Linked DNA regions of Homo sapiens: region 1 is linked to region 2. Evidence: fine-mapped expression QTL. Tissue or cell type: whole blood. Region 2 holds a variant in brackets; the other region holds the start of a gene. All regions are shown on one strand. Distances are between the middles of the regions.

What was found. PIP is the estimated chance that this variant, and not a neighbour inherited with it, causes the effect.
Region 1: KXD1 starts here. The variant in region 2 is fine-mapped to the expression of KXD1 in whole blood (TOPMed, PIP 0.99).

Annotation. Positions count from the first base shown.
Region 1 is chr19:18,554,576-18,562,671 of GRCh38, reverse strand. It overlaps KXD1 (KxDL motif containing 1), which reads right to left and starts at 4,802. Exons shown (of 5, transcript NM_024069.4): 1 at 4,758-4,802; 2 at 515-636. The coding sequence starts at 615. RefSeq lists enhancers at 1-569, 4,194-4,983, 4,984-5,775 and a silencer at 4,544-4,703.
Region 2 is chr19:18,584,014-18,592,112 of GRCh38, reverse strand. REX1BD (required for excision 1-B domain containing) reads right to left here and starts at 3,315. Exons shown (of 5, transcript NM_001100418.2): 1 at 3,213-3,315; 2 at 3,036-3,118; 3 at 2,430-2,700; 4 at 1,180-1,259; 5 at 1-5. The coding sequence starts at 3,311. RefSeq lists an enhancer at 1-464 and a silencer at 2,968-3,487. The variant C/G (reference allele first, on the strand shown) is at 4,304.

The DNA of each region.
Region 1 (8,096 bases), 29 kb after region 2:
TGACCAACATGATGAAAGCCCGTCTCTACTAAAAATACAAAAATTAGCTGGGCATGGTGGCACATGCTTGTAATCCCAGCTACTCAGAGGGCTGAGGCAGGAGAAATCGCTTGAACTCGGGAGGCGGAGGTTGCAGTGAGGCAAGGTCACACCATTGCACTCTAGCCTGGGCAACAAGAGCAAAACTCTGTCTCAAAAACAAGAAACAAATAAACAAAAAAACCTGCATGTGGCCCCCTCTGGTCCTTCAACTCTCCCACCCCAGGTCTCGGGACAGGAGCCCCTGCGGCCCCCGCCAAGCCATCCGCAGCTGCAAAATCTCCCCAAAGCCCTGCTTCCTGTGCCAAGGCCTCGCCTCCAGGCCGGGAAGGAATTTACTTTGGAGCCAGCGACAGATTTGCTCATTTCCTTCATTTTATCACCAGTGTGGGCCCCGGGTAGGGGCGGGCAAGACAAGAATGTTGGCCAGCCTGTGGATTCCTTCCCACGCTCAGGTCCCCCAGCCGCCACTCACATGTTCTTCTGGGCCAGGATGATGGCGTTGACATCATCTGTGTTCACCATGCTCAGGATGCGGCCGCAGAAGACCCTCGAGGCCGAGTCCGGGAGGTCCATCTCTTTCTCCTCCTCCGCTGCCTGAAACAGGCAAGAACAGAGTGGTCTGCACTAGTCACCAGGTGAGGTGGGACCAAGAGGCCAGGCCGGGACCGCCATGTGCTGGAACCTAACCCAACCGTGGTGGTATCCTACAGTGGGGATGTGTGACTGTGGCTCAGTCATGCCACCTGAACCTCAGGTGTGCCACCCCAGGAATTTGGAGGTATTGGGCAAACTAAGAGAGGTTGTATTTGTAAACTGTACCCAAGCACATTAGAATCCCATCACCTCCCACTTCCATGAGCCCAAGGCCACAGGTACCTCTCACCTGCACAGATCTGCCAGCTTCCTCCCTCATCCCCTGCCTAACAACTGCTGTCCTCACAAGCTGAACGTGTGTGGCTGCTTCAGCAAATCATCACCACCTCCAATGTCTCCTCTCCCAAGAGGTCAATGACTCCTGTTCCCGTCACTCTTACCGCTTCTCTTACTACTTGACCTCGTTTTTTTATTTCTTTTTGATACAGAGTTTCACTCCTGTCACCCAGGCTGGAGTGCAATGGCGCGATCTTGGCTTAGCGCAACCTCCGCCTCCCAGGTTCAAGCGATTCTCCTGCCTCACCCTCCCAAGTAGCTGGGATTACAGGTGCCCGCCACCACGCCTGGCTAATTTTTGTATTTTTTAGTAGAGACGGGGTTTCACCATTTTGGCCAGGCTGGTCTCGAACTACTGACCTCAGGTGATCCACTCGCCTCAGCCTCCCAAAGTGCTGGGATTACAGGCATGAGCCACCGCGCCCAGGCTACTTTACCTTGTTTTTGTTTGTTTGTTTGTTAAGAGACAGGGTCTCGCTATGTTGCCTAGGCTGCTCTTAAATTCCTAGGCTGACACGACCCTTTTGCCTTGGCCTCCCAAAGTGCTAGGATTACAGGCCTGAGCCACTGCGCCCAGCCACCCTTTACCTTGATTTAACTGCTTCACTGGTTCACCTCTTCATGAAATTATCCTAGTTATCAGCTAACCCGTTTGCCTGTCACCGCCACAACGTCAGCTCCAAAAGAGCAGAGGTGGCCAGGTGCTGTGGCTCACGCCTGTAATCCTAGCACTCTGGGAGGGCGAGGCAGGTGGATCACGAGGTCAGGAGTTCGAGACCAGCCTGGCCAACATAGTGAAACCCCATCTCTACTAAAAATACAAAAATTAGCCAGGCATGGTGGTGGGCACCTTTAGTCCCAGCTACTCGGGAGCTTGAGGCAGGAGAATCACTTGAACCCAGGAGGCGGAGGTTGTGGTGAGCCAAGACTGTGCCACTGCACTCCAGCCTGGGCAACAGAGAGACTCCGTCTCAAAAAAAAAAAAGAAGGAGTAGAGGTGTGTCTGTCACCAGAACCCGACCCGGAGTCTGGCTCATAGCAAGGGGCTGCCAGAATGTTGTTGTGGGGAAGGGCAACAGAACTTTTCAAACTCAGCTCTGACGTGACACTTTTATTAGCAAATTAAAGCCAAGAATTGCAGGTACTCACAGCCAACCTGTGGGCCCCAGCAATCCAGATGGTTCTGAGGTTCCCAGTTTTGCTGGCACACAGATGACCGTAATGGCAGGCAGGGACTTCCCGGAGCAGCCAGGGTAGGAGGGGCTACAGCACTGACCCTCCTAGGGAGTTCAGGAAAAATCTAGGATCTTGATATAGTTTGGCTCTGAGGCCCACACATTTAATAGCCAAGAAACAGAGACGAACTTCTACTGGATCAGAAAGGGTTTCAGAGGCCGGGTGTGGTGGCTCACGTCTGTAATCCTAGCACTTTGGGAGGCCGAGGTGGGCAGACTGCTTGAGGTCAGGAGTTCAAAACCAGCCTGGCCAACATAGTGAAACTCAGTCTCTACTAAAAATACAAAAAAAATTAGCCGGGCATGGTGGCGGGCACCTGTAGTCGCAGCTACTTGGATGGCTGAGGCAGGAGAATGGCTTGAACCTGGGAGGCAGAGGTTGCAATGAGCCGAGATCATGCCACTACACTCCAGCCCGGGCGACAGAGTGAGACTCCATCTCGAAAAGAAGGAAGGAAGGGAGGGAGGGAGGGAAGGAAGGAAGGGAGAGAGAGAAAGAGAGAGAGAAGGAGAGAAAGAGAGAGAGACAAAGAGAGAAAGAGAGAGGAGAGAAAGAGAGAGAGACAGAGAAAGAGAGAAAGAAAGGAAAGAGAAAGAAAGGGTTTCAGAGCTCACTTAATGTACTCTCCCATTTATTCAGCAGCTACTCTATGCTAAACAAAGCATCAAGCTCATACATACTGTTATCATTCTTATTTATAGATGAGAAAACTGAGGCTCAGGGACACTGAGAAACTGGGCCACTGTCACACAGCCAGTGAACCTAAGTCACAACAAACGGCCACAGCCCACGGGTCTCACAAAGGTGTGAATCTGAACAGGTGCACAATATCCAGCTGTGACAGGACAGTGGCTTCTTACAGCAGCTGATTTCTGCCTGACTTCTGATGTTTCTCCAGGAAAAAGGAAACAGGGATTTTTTTTTTCTGGGAAATTGCCTCATTGACAAATGTCAGCAATCAATACTTTTTTCCAAGATATCATGGAGGCCAAGAGCATCTATTTGTGATCTGTATCTGGTCAGTGGTTTGCAGCACCTTCTAGAAATAAGGTGCCACACCCAGCAAAACCCCCTTCCCTCTAATAATAACTATGGTTATTGAACTCCTATGACATGCCATGCAGAGACACCCAGTCTCCACATTCCCAAAGAAGCATGATCTTGTATAAAGAGGATACCTGGACCGGGTGCTCATGCCTGTAATCTCAGCACTTTGGGAAGCCAAGGCTGGTGGATCACCTGAGGTCATGAGTTCAAGACTAGCCTGGTGAACATGGTGAAACCCCCGTCTCTACTAAAAATACAAAAATTAGCCAGGCATGATGGCGGGCACCTGTAGTCCCAGCTACTCAGGAGGCTGAGGCAGGAGAATCGCTTGAACCCGGGAGGCAGAGGTTGCAATGAGCCAAAATCAAGCCACTGCATTCTAGTGTGGGCTACAGAGGGAGACTTCATCTCAACTGAAAAAAAAAAAAAAAAAAAAAAAAAGACACCTGGAGAGGGAGGCCCATAGCTAGTACCAGTGAGACACAGTACTGGGACCTTCTGGGATACACTCCTCCTTCAAAACAGGACTCTTTTCTGTCTCTGGCTCCCAGATGTGAGGGCTGAGGGGTTCCTGGCACCTCCCTCCCGTCCCCCCGCAACTTCCTCTCCCAAGAAGCCTTCCCTGATTACTGCTAGTCTGGCCCACATACACAGTGAAATTGACCCAGCAAGAGCTCTGATCCCAACTCCAAATGTAGATTTATTGAAGAAACGCAGAGAGGTAGGCTGTTTGACCATGGGAGAGCCACTTCACCCTTCTGAATCAGTTTTTTCAACCATAAAATGAAAATAAGGTAGAATGAAGATCTCACAGTGCTGTCTGTGGCAACTGAAACCAAAGGTGATAACGACTGGAGCTCAGGACAGGCTGTTTCTCCAAGAGGAGTGTGAAGAAGTCCCGGGAATCAACATTTTGAGAGCATCCCAGGGGCCTCTAAGAATATATTACGGGCAAACACTTGTAGAGCACTTCATTTCATCCTCAATCACCGTTACGAGGCAGACACAATCATCTCCGAGTGAAACTGAGGCTCACAGGGGCGGGCTCCGTTGCCGAAACTCACAGGGAGAGGCAGAGAAGCACCACGGTTCTATATCCAGGTTATTTAACAGAATTTAACTCAGCCATCCAAGCTCTGAAAAACCCCAAGTGGGGAGGGGCTCAAATATCCCCTCACGCCCCGTCCCCTACAATACAGGGAAACTGAGGCACAAACCGGGCAACGCCCAGCTCCAGGTTACACGACACACCCAGAACACAGGAGGCCCCAATTCCTATGCCCCTGATCCGGATCCAGATCCAGCCCGTAGCGCCGCCTGCGTATCCATTGAGCAGACGGGGAAACTGAGGCCTGTGCGCAGCAGGAATGACCAGATGTGGCCAGTGGCGCACCCCACCCCACCGCAGCCCGGGGGCCGCGCCCGACCCGGACCGGTTCCCCGCGGCCCTGGAGTCCCCAGCCCCACCCCAAACTCGGCCCCGGCGTCGGTAGCGGCGGCACCTGCACATCTGGCGGCCTTGCTCGCGCTTCCGGGATGGCGCCCGCGCCGGCGAAACGTCACCACGCACCGATCCTGCGAGCGCGCGTGGCGGGGACGTACCCTGGAGCCGCTTGCGTGCGTTAAGTCACGACAGGAAAGGGCGGGGCTTAGACGGAGCTTCAGCTCGTGGGTGCATCACAATGAATAGCCAATCAAACAATTCATCTCGCGCCTGCGTATTTCCAGAAGCCCAGGCTTGAAAGCGGCCCGGAAGAAGGAAGGCTGAGAGAAGTGTCCCATTTTGTAGATAGTGTGACTGAGGTCCCAGAGTGGTAACCCTCCCCAAGGTCGTAAATGCTACAGTGGTCAGAGGCCAAACCACACTCAGGTGTCCTGCTTTCCAAGCAGGGAATTAGACTCATCTGTGTTCAGACATCCCTGCTCCACTTTTGCTGATTTTTTTGGTCCAAGTTTCCTTTTTTTTTTTTTTTTTTTTTTTTTGAGACAGAGTTTCGCTCTTGTTGCCCAGGCTGGAGTACAATGGCGTGATCTCGGCTCACCGCAACCTCCGCTTCCCAGGTTCAAGCGATTCATCTGCCTCAGCCTTCCGGAGTAGCTGGAATTACAGGCATGTGCCACCATGCCCGGCAAGTTTTGTGTTTTTAGTAGAGACAGGGTTTCTCCATGTTGGTCAGGCGGGTCCCGATCTCCCGACCTCAGGTGATCTGCCCGCCTCGGCCTCCCAAAGTGCTGGGATTACAGGCATGAGCCACCGCGCCCAGCCCTGGTTTCCATTTACACTTCCACGTTGTTTTGGAGTAATGCGCTGGGGAATTTTTTCAAAAGGGTTTACAGGCTGGGCGCGGTGGCTCACATCCTGTCATTGTAATCCGAGCACTTTGGGAGGCCGAGGCGGGCGGATCACGAGATCAGGAGTTCGAGACCAGCCTGACCAACATGGTGAAACCTTGTCTCTACTAAAAATAAAAAAAATTAGTCGGGAGTGGTGGCGGGAGCCTGTAATCCCAGCTACTCAGGAGGCTGAGGCAGGAGAATCGCTTGAACCCAGGAGGCAGAGGCTGCAGTAAGCCAAGATCGCACCACTGCACTCCAGCTTGGGCGATAGAGCAAGACCACGTCTCAAAAAAAAAAAAGAAGGTCAAGCTAAAAAATGAAGAAAATGTATTTTAAGTTCATGTTAGTTTGTGTATACGAGTACCAAGTTTTTGTAATAAAATGCCTCACAGCTACAATTGGAAAAAAAAAAAAAAACGGGCCTGTGGCCCGAGCCTGTGGTCCCAGTTTCTCAAGAGGCTGAGGTAGGAGTATCGTTTGAGGCCAGGAGGCAGAAGTTGCAGTGAACGAAGACCCCACTCCAGCCTGGGCAACAGAGTGAGACCCAGTCTCAAAAAACAAACAGGCCCGGCGCAGTGGCTCACGCCTGTAACCCCAGCACTTTGGGATGCCAGGCGTGTGGATCACCTGAGGTCGGGAGTTTGAGACCAGACTGGCCAACATGGTGAAACCCCGTCTCTACTAAAAATCCAAAAAAAAAAAAAAAAAATTAGCCTGGCGTGGTGGCAGGTGCTATAATCATAGCTACTCAGGAGGATGAGGCATGAGAATCTCTTGAACCTGGGAGGCGGAGATTGCAGTGAGCCGAGATTGTGCCACTGCACTCCAGCCTGGGTGACAGAATGAGACTTTGTCTCAAAAAGCAACAACAACAACAACAACAAAAATCGCTATAAACTGATGTGGATTAATAAATCCACATCATTATAATTATAATTATTTCCTTTCCTGCCCCTTTAAATTAGCTCCTGGCTGGGTGCAGTGGCTCACGCCTGTAATCCCAGCACTTTGGGAGGCCGAGGCGGGCGGATCATGAGGTCAGGAGATTGAGACCATCCTGGCTAACATGGTGAAACCCTATCTCTACTAAAAATACAAAAAATTAGCCAGGCGTGGTGGCAGGTGCCTGTGGTCCTAGCTACTCGGGAGGCTGAGGCAGGAGAATGGTGCAAACCCGGGAGGCGAAGCTTGCAGTGAGCAGAGATCGAGCCACTGCACTCCAGCCTGGGCGACAGAGCAAGACTCCGTCTCAATAAATAAATAAATAAATAATAAATAAGCTCCTGTGTCCTTTTAATATGTCGCCACCATTCTCTGAGCATTATTTATCTTGGGCTCCACAACATGATCCAATGCTGTGTAAAATCCCTGGAATCAGCCATTTCTCCAAGGAACCTGGTTCCTTTGCTTCAAGAGTAGGATTTAGAAACCAAGATCAGTCGGGGCTCAGTGATTCACGCCTGTAATCCCAGCACTGTGGGAAGCTGAGGTGGGCAGATCAGGAAGTCAGGAGTTCGAGACCACCTGGGCCAACATGATGAAACCCCCCCATCTCTATTAAAAACACAAAAAAATTAGCCAGGCATGGTGGTGGGCACCTGTAATCCCAGTTACTCGAGACACTGGAGAATCACTTGGAACTGGGAGGCAGAGGTTGCAGTGAGCTGAGATCACCCACTGCACTCCAGCCTGGGCAACAAGAGCGAAACTCTGTCTCAAAACAAAAAAGAAAGAGGCCGGGTGTAGTGGCTCACTCCTGTAATCCCAGCACTTTGGGAGGCTGAGGTGGGCAGATCACCTGAGGTCGGGAGTTCGAGACCAGCCTGACCAACATGGAGTAACCCTGTCTTTACTAAAAATACAAAATTAGCCAGGCATGGTGGCACATCCCTGTAATCCTAGCTACTTGGGAGGCTGAGGCAGGAGAATCGTTTGAACCTGGGAGACAGAGGTTGCAGTGATCCGAGATCACACCACTGCACTCCAGCCTGGGCAACAAGAGCGAAACTCCATCTCAAAAAAAAAAAAAAAAAAGAAAGAAGGAAAGAAAGGAAGGGAGGGAGGGAGGGAAAGAAGGGAAAGAAAGAAAGAAATTAGCCGGGTGCTGTGGCTCATGCCTGTAATCCCGGCATTCTGGGAGGCCGAGGCGGGCAGATTACCTGAGGTAAGGAGTTTGAGACCAGCCTGGCCAGCATGGTGAAACCCCGTCCCTACTAAAACACACACACACACACACACACACACCACACACACACAATTAGCTGGGCATTGTGGTGCACACCTGTAGTCCTAGCTACTCGGGAGCCTGAGGCAGGAGAATTGCTTGAACCCAGGAGACAGAGGTTGCAGTGAGCCAAGAACACGCCACTGCACTCCAGCCTGGGCAACAGAGCAAGACTCCATCTCAAAAAAAAAAAAAAAAAAAAAAGGCCGGGCACGGTGGCTCATGCCTGTAATCCTAACACTTTGGGAAGCCAAGGCAGGCAGATTGCCTGAGCTCAGGA
Region 2 (8,099 bases):
TTACCCTACAAGAGCGGATGGGAACTATAAATAAAACCCAGATGGGGTGAATTAGCTGCTGCCGCGAAGCTGCAAGAGGGCTGTGGCTGTGGTGAGCCCCAGGCCCTCCTGCCCGCCGCCAAACCTCCAGGCAGCACTAGCAGCAAGAGGGAACACTTAGGTGCTAGGGAGAAGGGGTGGCCCCATAGGTCACAGTGGGCTGAGAGAAAAGGCCATCTGGGCTGGGCATGGTGGCTCACGCCTGTAATCCAGCACTTTGGGAAGCTGAGGCAGGCAGATCACCTGAGGTCAGGAGTTCAAAACAAGCCTGGCCAACATGGCGAATCCCCGTCTCTACTAAAAATACAAGAATTAGCCAGGCATGGTGGCGGGCATCTGTAATCCAAGCTACTTAGGAGGCAGAGGTTACGGTAAGCCAAGACCGCACCACTGCACTCCAGCCTGGGTGACAGAGCAAGACTCTATCTCAAAAAAAAGAAAGAAAAAAGAAAAGAAAATAAAGGACCAGGCGTGCTGGCTTACGCCTGTAATCCCAGCACTTTGGGAGGCTGAGGTGGGCAGATCACGAGGTCAGGAGATCGAGACCATCCTGGCCAACATGGTGAAACCCATCTCTACTAAAATACAAAAAATTAGCTGGGCGTGGTGGCACGCGCCTGTAGTCCCAGCTACTCAGGAGGCTGAGGCAGGGGAATCACTTGAACCCGGGAGGCGGAGGTTGCAGTGAGCTGAGATCGCGCCACTGCACTCCAGCCTGGTGACAGAGTGAGACTGCATCTCAGAAAAAAAAGAAAAGAAAAGGCCATCTTGGTGGGGTGTGTACCATTAGGAGGTTATGAAGTGTGACTTTGTCAAATGTGTGTGTACATGAGTGTGTGTGCTTGGGGGCTGAGGACAGGCATCTGAAGGTCTGTGCTCAGTGGGGCATGTCCAAGCTCCACGGACAGCCACGTGTGCAGGATTGGCATGTGTCGAGGTATACAGCAGTGTCCCAGCAATGCACAGCGAAACTGATGTGAAGTTTCACGGCTGTGCCCTCTGGGGAAGTGTACATCTGAGGGCCACCAGGTGAGAACACCATTGTGCACTGGCAGAGGGTTCCTCTGCTGGCAGCGTCCTGACCGTGCCAACCCTGGTGCAAATCGAGCATAGCCAGGCGGCTTGGGCAGCAGCGCTCACTTCATTTTCAGCTGCTGCATCCGTACAGCGTCCTCCTGCCCCGCCAGCTCTGGCGTCTCCATCAACTGCAGCAGGGCCACCTGGTGGGGGAATGAGCAACACGAAGGATGTCTCCACGAGCAGAACCCACCCCCTGCCCTCCAAGGATGTTCAGGAAAAAACAGAGGCACCCAGAAAGGCAGTGCCCGGGTAGAACCACGAGGGGCAGTGCTTTGTGTAGGAAGAGTCCGAAATTCAGTTTAGAGGCTCTCTCAGAAAGGAGACAGCAGGCAGGCCAGAGGCAGTGCTGAGCGCGATGTGGGCGTGGCCTGGGAACAACAGTGACGTCTTAGCCAGGCATTGGCCGTAGGGGTGGGTTAGGTTGCGCCTCATGGTCCCAGGGACGGGGACCCAGGATAAAAGTAGGCCAAAAAGCCTGGACGCGGTGGCTCACGCCTGAAATCCCAGCACTTCGGGAAGCAGAAGAGGGCGGATCGCTTGAGACCAGGAGTTCGAGACCAGCCTTGCCCATATGGCACAACCCCGTCTCTACTAAAAAAAATACAAAATACAAAAATTATGCCTGTAATCCCAGCTACTCAGGAGGCTGAGGCAGGAGAATCGCTTGAATCTGGGAGGCGGAGGTTGCCGTTAGCCGAGATCGCGCCATTGCACTCTAGCCTGGGTGAGAGAGCAAGAGAGCAAGAGCCTGTCTTAAAAAAAAAAAAAAAAAAAAAAAACACCAGAAAGAAAAAGGCCAAAGAGACGCTGAGACGGGTCGCTCATGGGGGGCGTGGCCTAGGAATTCCAGTCACACACGGTTGCAGGGCCGAGCAGGCGGATCGCAAGAGAGAAATAGGCAAAGAACTAAAGCTGTGATGGAGGAATAATACGGAGGAGGCGTGGCCTGGGACCCCCCTCGCCTGTATCTACGGGAGGTTGAGGGTGGGACCCTAGACGCGGAACAACCAGAGTGGGTGGAGCATTGTTGGGGCGGGATCTGGGCATCTTGGAATAGCATTTAGGCGGAGCTGGGAGAAAGCGGGAGTGCTCTGGGAATAAGGACAAAACTTGGGAAAAAAATTGGGGATGAACAGCAGAGGGCAAGGTCCGAGAATCCCCAAGTGAAGCCTTAATAGAGGATTGGGGTGGGACAGGAAGGGGTGAGGTCTGTGTATGGGATACTGGGACCACCCCCCAACCAGGGGTGCGTCATGAGAGGAGCCGGCCAGGGTCCTAGAGACACGGCGGGGAAGGGGTGGTGGCCTCACCGTGCCCAGCCGCGTCTGCTCCAGCTCCTGCAGGCTGCGCACGTGGCCGGCGAGCAGCGGCTGCCTGCGAGGCCCGCCCAGCTCTGCTTCCACCGCCAGCACCTCCCGCGAGGCGGCGGCGAAGGCCTGGGTCACCCCGTGCACTGTGCTCCGGTAGCGCGCGAAGTCGTAGTCAGGGCCGCTGCGCAGGTACTGGCGGTGGCCTCTGCGGCATGTGGGGACCCTGAGGCCGCGCCCCCAGGCTCTCAGGCCCTGCACCGGCGCCAACCACCTGAAAGGCCCCCAGGAAGTGTCCCCAGACACCAGAGGGGAGGACTGGTAGGTAGGAAGGACGCTTCCTGACTCCCGCAGGGGAACGCGAGACAGGCCCACCCCTGCTCTTGGGGAGGAGAGAGAAGCCACGAAGAGTGAGTCGTCGGGTAGTGGGGACGTGCTGTGGGGCCTTTTTCGTGAAGGTGAGGACCCGGTGCCCCGAAATCCCCGCCCCATCTGACTCTGCAGCCACACAAGGACCCAGCTCCTCCTCCAGGCACGCCCGCCGAGAACACGCCCACGCCCGGAGCGGGCGGGGGACCGAACCCTGAGCCCCTCCGCGCCCCCACTCACTCCTCCAGTCGGCGGAAGCCCTGCGCGCGCTCAGCCTGCAGCTGGTGGATGCGCTGCACCAGCGTCCGGATCGGGGCGTCTTTCTGCGGGACAGGGGGCACGGCTGGGGCATGAAGCCCGCGCCCCTGGGTCTGCGCCGCCCGCCCCGCGCCCGTTCCCGCTTGGGCCTGGGCTCACCCAGGGCCACGCCGGCTCCTCGCGTCCCCGAGCTTCGGTGGCCTCCTCAGCAGCAGGCACTGCAGGGACCGTAGGCTCCGCCGCGGTCTCGGTGATCATGACTGCGCAGCCCTGGCCAGGCTCCGGAGCAGGCCCTTCCGCTGCGCCCGACGCCCCCTACAGGCCGGGAGGTCCACGGACCCCCTACCCTGCGGCCGGCCAGCCAGAAGGAAGAAAGGGGAACCAAGACCGCGGGCCGCCCAGTCAAGCCCACCCTTCTTGTTCCCGTCCAGGGCCCGCCTCCGATCGTGTTTTTCCTTGATTGTGCGGCTCTGAATACAGAACAGCTGTTAGCCTTGAGTTCGTTCCTATGCTTGTATCTCAACACCGACTTCCACTTGAAGCGGGTACTGAGCGTGGGTTTTGACGTTCAAGAGTGTTAAGTAAGCCTGGGCAACCTAGGGAGGCCCGATCTCTACAGAAAAACCAATTAGCCCGACATGGTGGCTCCCGCCTCCAGTCCCAGCTACTCGGGAGGCTGAGGTGGGAGGATTACATGAGCCCGGGAGTTGGGGGCTGCCATGAGCTATGACCATGCCACTGCACTCCAGCCGGAGCCACAGTGAGTCTGCCTCAAAAAAAGTGCAGTGGCTGGAACTCCACCAACATTAACAGAGATTCACTGGCTCTTCAGAGAATCACAGGGGTGAAGACAAGATTCAGTGACAGGGACGGTGTCAACAGCCCACCGAGTTGAATTGGGTGTCTTGTGTAATAGCCCTGAGCCTGGAGCATAGCAGGGGCCAGAACGACCTCAAAGTACAGAGGAGGCCTTGGAGCTTCCTGCTGGAGGGATACATGGGCTAGACAGAGCTTTGGAAAGCTTCCTCCTCCAGGGGCCCAGCCGGAGGAGCAGGAAGATGCTGGTAGCCTGACTTAGTGAAGAGGGACCAGCTCAGGTATGGGGTGACAGACACCAGCCTTTAAGGGGGAAGGGACTAGGCTGTTAGTGAGTTGGGAGTTTTTCTTGCCGATGGGTTCGTGGTCTCGCTAACTTTGAAGAATGAAGCTGTGGACCTTCGCGGTGTGTGTTACAGATCAAAAAGAGTCCA[C/G]GGACCAGGAGAGTGAGCAGCAGGGCAGTTTATTGAACAAAGCGAAAGGAAAGCTTCCACATGCTGGAAGGGGACCCGGAAGGGTTGCCGTTGCTGGCTCCGGTGGCTAGGGCTCATATCCCTATGTTACCCCTCCCCTTTCTTTTTGTCCATTGAGAGTGGTTCTTTTTTCAATCCTCCTCTGGAGTGTTTTTTTTTTTTGTTTTTTTTTTTTTTTTTTTTTAGTGAGACAGAGTCTCGCTCTGTCGCCCAGGCTGCAGTGCAATGGCACGATCTCGGCTCACTTCAAGCTCTGCCTCCCGGGTTCACGCCATTCTCCTGCCTCAGCCTCCCCAGTAGCTGGGACCACAGGCGCCCGCCACCACACCCGGCCAATTTTTTGTATTTTTAGTAGAGGCAGGGTTTCACCGGGTTAGCCAGGATGGTCTCAATCTCCTGACCTCGTGATCCGCCCGCCTCGGCCTCCCAAAGTGCTGGGATTACAGGCGTGAGCCACCGCGCCCGGCCTGGAGTGGTTAATTCTGAATCCTTCACTCGATTGGTTAAGAACTCAAAACACTGAGTCACAGGGGTCTTCTGTGAAAGTCCCCAAACCTGCCCAGTAAATCCTGCCAACTCCACCCCTCAGTCCCCTCTCTCAACAGGAGAGCCCAACTGCTGTTGGGGTGTGGGAGGATGACCACTCTAATTGCTTCCTGCTGAATAGGGGCATAGAAGGGGTTCTGTAGCTGAGGTTTCCTCGTGAGAGGTGGTTTGGGTGTCAACGTCCGGGTATGGGCCGGCAGGCTGGTTTAGGGGTCCTTGATAATAGGTGCTGGTTGAAGTCATCTGAGGTTCCATCTGCAGTAACATTTCTAGTTTCATTGATTCTATTCAGGAAGAAACGAAAGGATGAAGGAACTGAAAAGACATGGGCCAAAGGTTACTCCTAGAATAATCATAAGGAAGGGACCTAAAAATGGAAGAAGCCAGTGGAGAACAGGCTGTGAGAACCCTGAGGTAGTTTCGGTTGTCCCACCATGTAGTCTGCTAGCTCTATCCTGAAGTCATTTAATTCCATCTCTCACTATGCCTGATTTATTGACATAAAAACAACATTCCTTGTTCAGAAAAAGGCATGTTCCTCCCCTTTCGGCAGTGAGGAGATTGGAGATCTAGTGCTCACTGGTTCTGGAGAACCACAGCTGCTAATGAGTCTATTTGGTCCTGGATTTGAGTAAGTTGGAGAGAGATTTCATCTAGGCTGTGAGTCCACTTCCTAGGTGGTAGTAAATCCTAAACCAGCCAATAGAGGAAGTAGTGAGATTGCTCTCGGCTGAAGCTTAGCATGAATGGGCACAGCTACTGCCTCTTCTGAAAAGGAATAAGTCACAGGAGGTACTATGTAGGCTAAAGTACAAGTTCCTGTCCAGTTGGTGGGGAGGCAAATATAGAAGGATCTTCCACACACAAAGAAAACTCCTTATCAGGGTTCTATACACCCCTGTAGCTGAAAACTCATAAGGGCTGTGGTCAGTCTAAATTCATTTCTCATTCCCATGATTTGAGGGTTCAGGACAAATGGGCCACTCCTAGCAGTTGGAGCTGAATAGAATTTGCCAAGGACGTATTATGGGGTTCCTGTAAGGCAAACCGGTGGCTAGCTGCATTAAGAAAAACTCTCGGCTGGGTGCAGTGGCTCACGCCTGTAATCCCAGCACTTTCGGAGGCCAAGGCTGGTGGATCACGAGGTCAGGAGATCAAGACCATCCTGGCTAACATGGTGAAACTCCATCTCTACTAAAAATACAAAAAATTAGCTGGGTGTGGTGGTGGGCGCCTGTAGTCCCAGCTACTCGGGAGGCTGAGGCAGGAGAATGGTGCAAACCTGGGAGGCGGAGCTTGCAGTGAGGGAGATCGCGCCACTGCACTCCAGCCTGGGCGACAGAGCGAGACTCCATCTCAAAAACAAAACAAAACAACAACAACAAAAAGAAAAACTCGCGCACCCCAGACAGGAAGCAGGAAGCAATGGGGTTTTTTTAACCCTTTGCCTGTGAGAGAGGAACCAAGTCCCAGGAGGGGGATATCCTGGGCAAAAGGAAGTCTGCCCCAGCAGTAATTGCTTGTTGTTTTGGCCTCTGGTGGGGGAATTATTTGGCTTGGGGTGGTAAATCTTAAGGGATAGGTGACTGAAATAGGGTTTCCAAGGAACTCATGTTTATTTCCACAAAACATTGGGGTGCCAGTAGTCGTACTGTAAGAATTAGAATATTTGAACTCTATATCCAAGGCAAGCTATAGTTGCAGCCAGCCACGTGTCCCACACCTTGTGATCATGGGAACACTTGATGGGAGATACAAAGGAGTGGAGGCGAAGAGAAGGAGGTTATTGTGCCCACAGAACCTATGATTGGGATAGCTGATAGAGCGAATTGTCGGAGAATGGCGGCGGCTGCTTTTAAGGCTGCTTGAGCCCTGTCAGGGAAATTGGACCTATCACTAGGATGAAAAAATCCTGGACCCTTAGAAGTGTTAGCTATGTATGAGGCCTCAGAGCTTTCCACCCATATGTTGAGGGGGGCCGGAACTGCTGTATATAAGGGGGAAATTAGGGTTCATGCAAACCCAACAGGATGAGTTACTCTGATTGGGAAGTGCTTCAAATAAAAACCTGGAGGACATGTTTATAATTCCCTCAAGGTAGGCCGGGCACGGTGGCTCACGCCTGTAATCCCAGCACTTTGGGAGGCTGAGGAGGGCAGATCACGAGGTCAGCAGATCGAGACCACGGTGAAACCCCGTCTCTACTAAAAATACAAAAAATTAGCCAGGTGTGGTGGTGGGCGCCTGTAGTCCCAGCTACTTGGGAGGCTGAGGGAGGAGAATGGTGTGAACCCGGAAGGCAGAGCTTGCAGTGAGCCGAGATCACGTCACTGCACTCCAGCCTGGGCGACAGAGCGAGACTCTGTCTCAAAAAAAAAAAAAAAAAATAATAATAATAATAATAATTCCCTCAAGATTAGGGGAAGACATTGAGCGGGGAAAGGTTAAGACTTGGGCAAAGGCAAGGAATGTTAGGATGTTAGAGTACATTCTGTTTTTAAAACAAGAACTGAGGTAGAACTTATGAGCACTGATTAATTTTCCTTCTGAAAGAGGATACATAAGTCTTCCAATGGCTCGTGGGTGTAAGAAGGTTTGTCTGGCTGACTCTTAGATTCCCAAGCTAATGATTCTGCGGGTTTTTCAGGCTGTATCCAAGGTTTGATTCAGGTGTGATGGATCCAAGACTCCACTCCAATCACCTTGACTGCAGTTGGAGTGGAGAGGATAACCAAATATGGTCCTTCCCACGATGGATCTAGGGATGGGGAGGTAGAGGGGAGGGACTTGACTAATACTAGATCCCTGGGATGGAACGATGCTTTTCCCTTTTCTCGGTGGCATCCCTCGGGTAATGTCTTTAGGATTTGCTGGTACCTAGCCAAAGAAGTTATGTCCTTGACCAAGTTGGCAGTTTCTCAATCAAGTAAGAGGTTGTTTGTGAGAAAAGGCTGTCCATATAGCATTTCATAAGGACTGAGTCCTATCTTGTGGGGAGAATTTAGGATCCTTAATAATGCTATGGGCAAGAGGGTGAGTTTCCATGGGAGGTGAGTTTCTTGTGTTAATTTCCTTGAGTGCCTTTTGAGTGTTTCATTAATCTTCTCGACTTTCCCTGAGGATTGTGGTCCCTGGGCGCAATGAAGGTGATTTTTTTTTTTTTTTTTTGAGGGAGTCTCGCTCTGTCGCACAGGCTGGAGTGCAGTGGTGC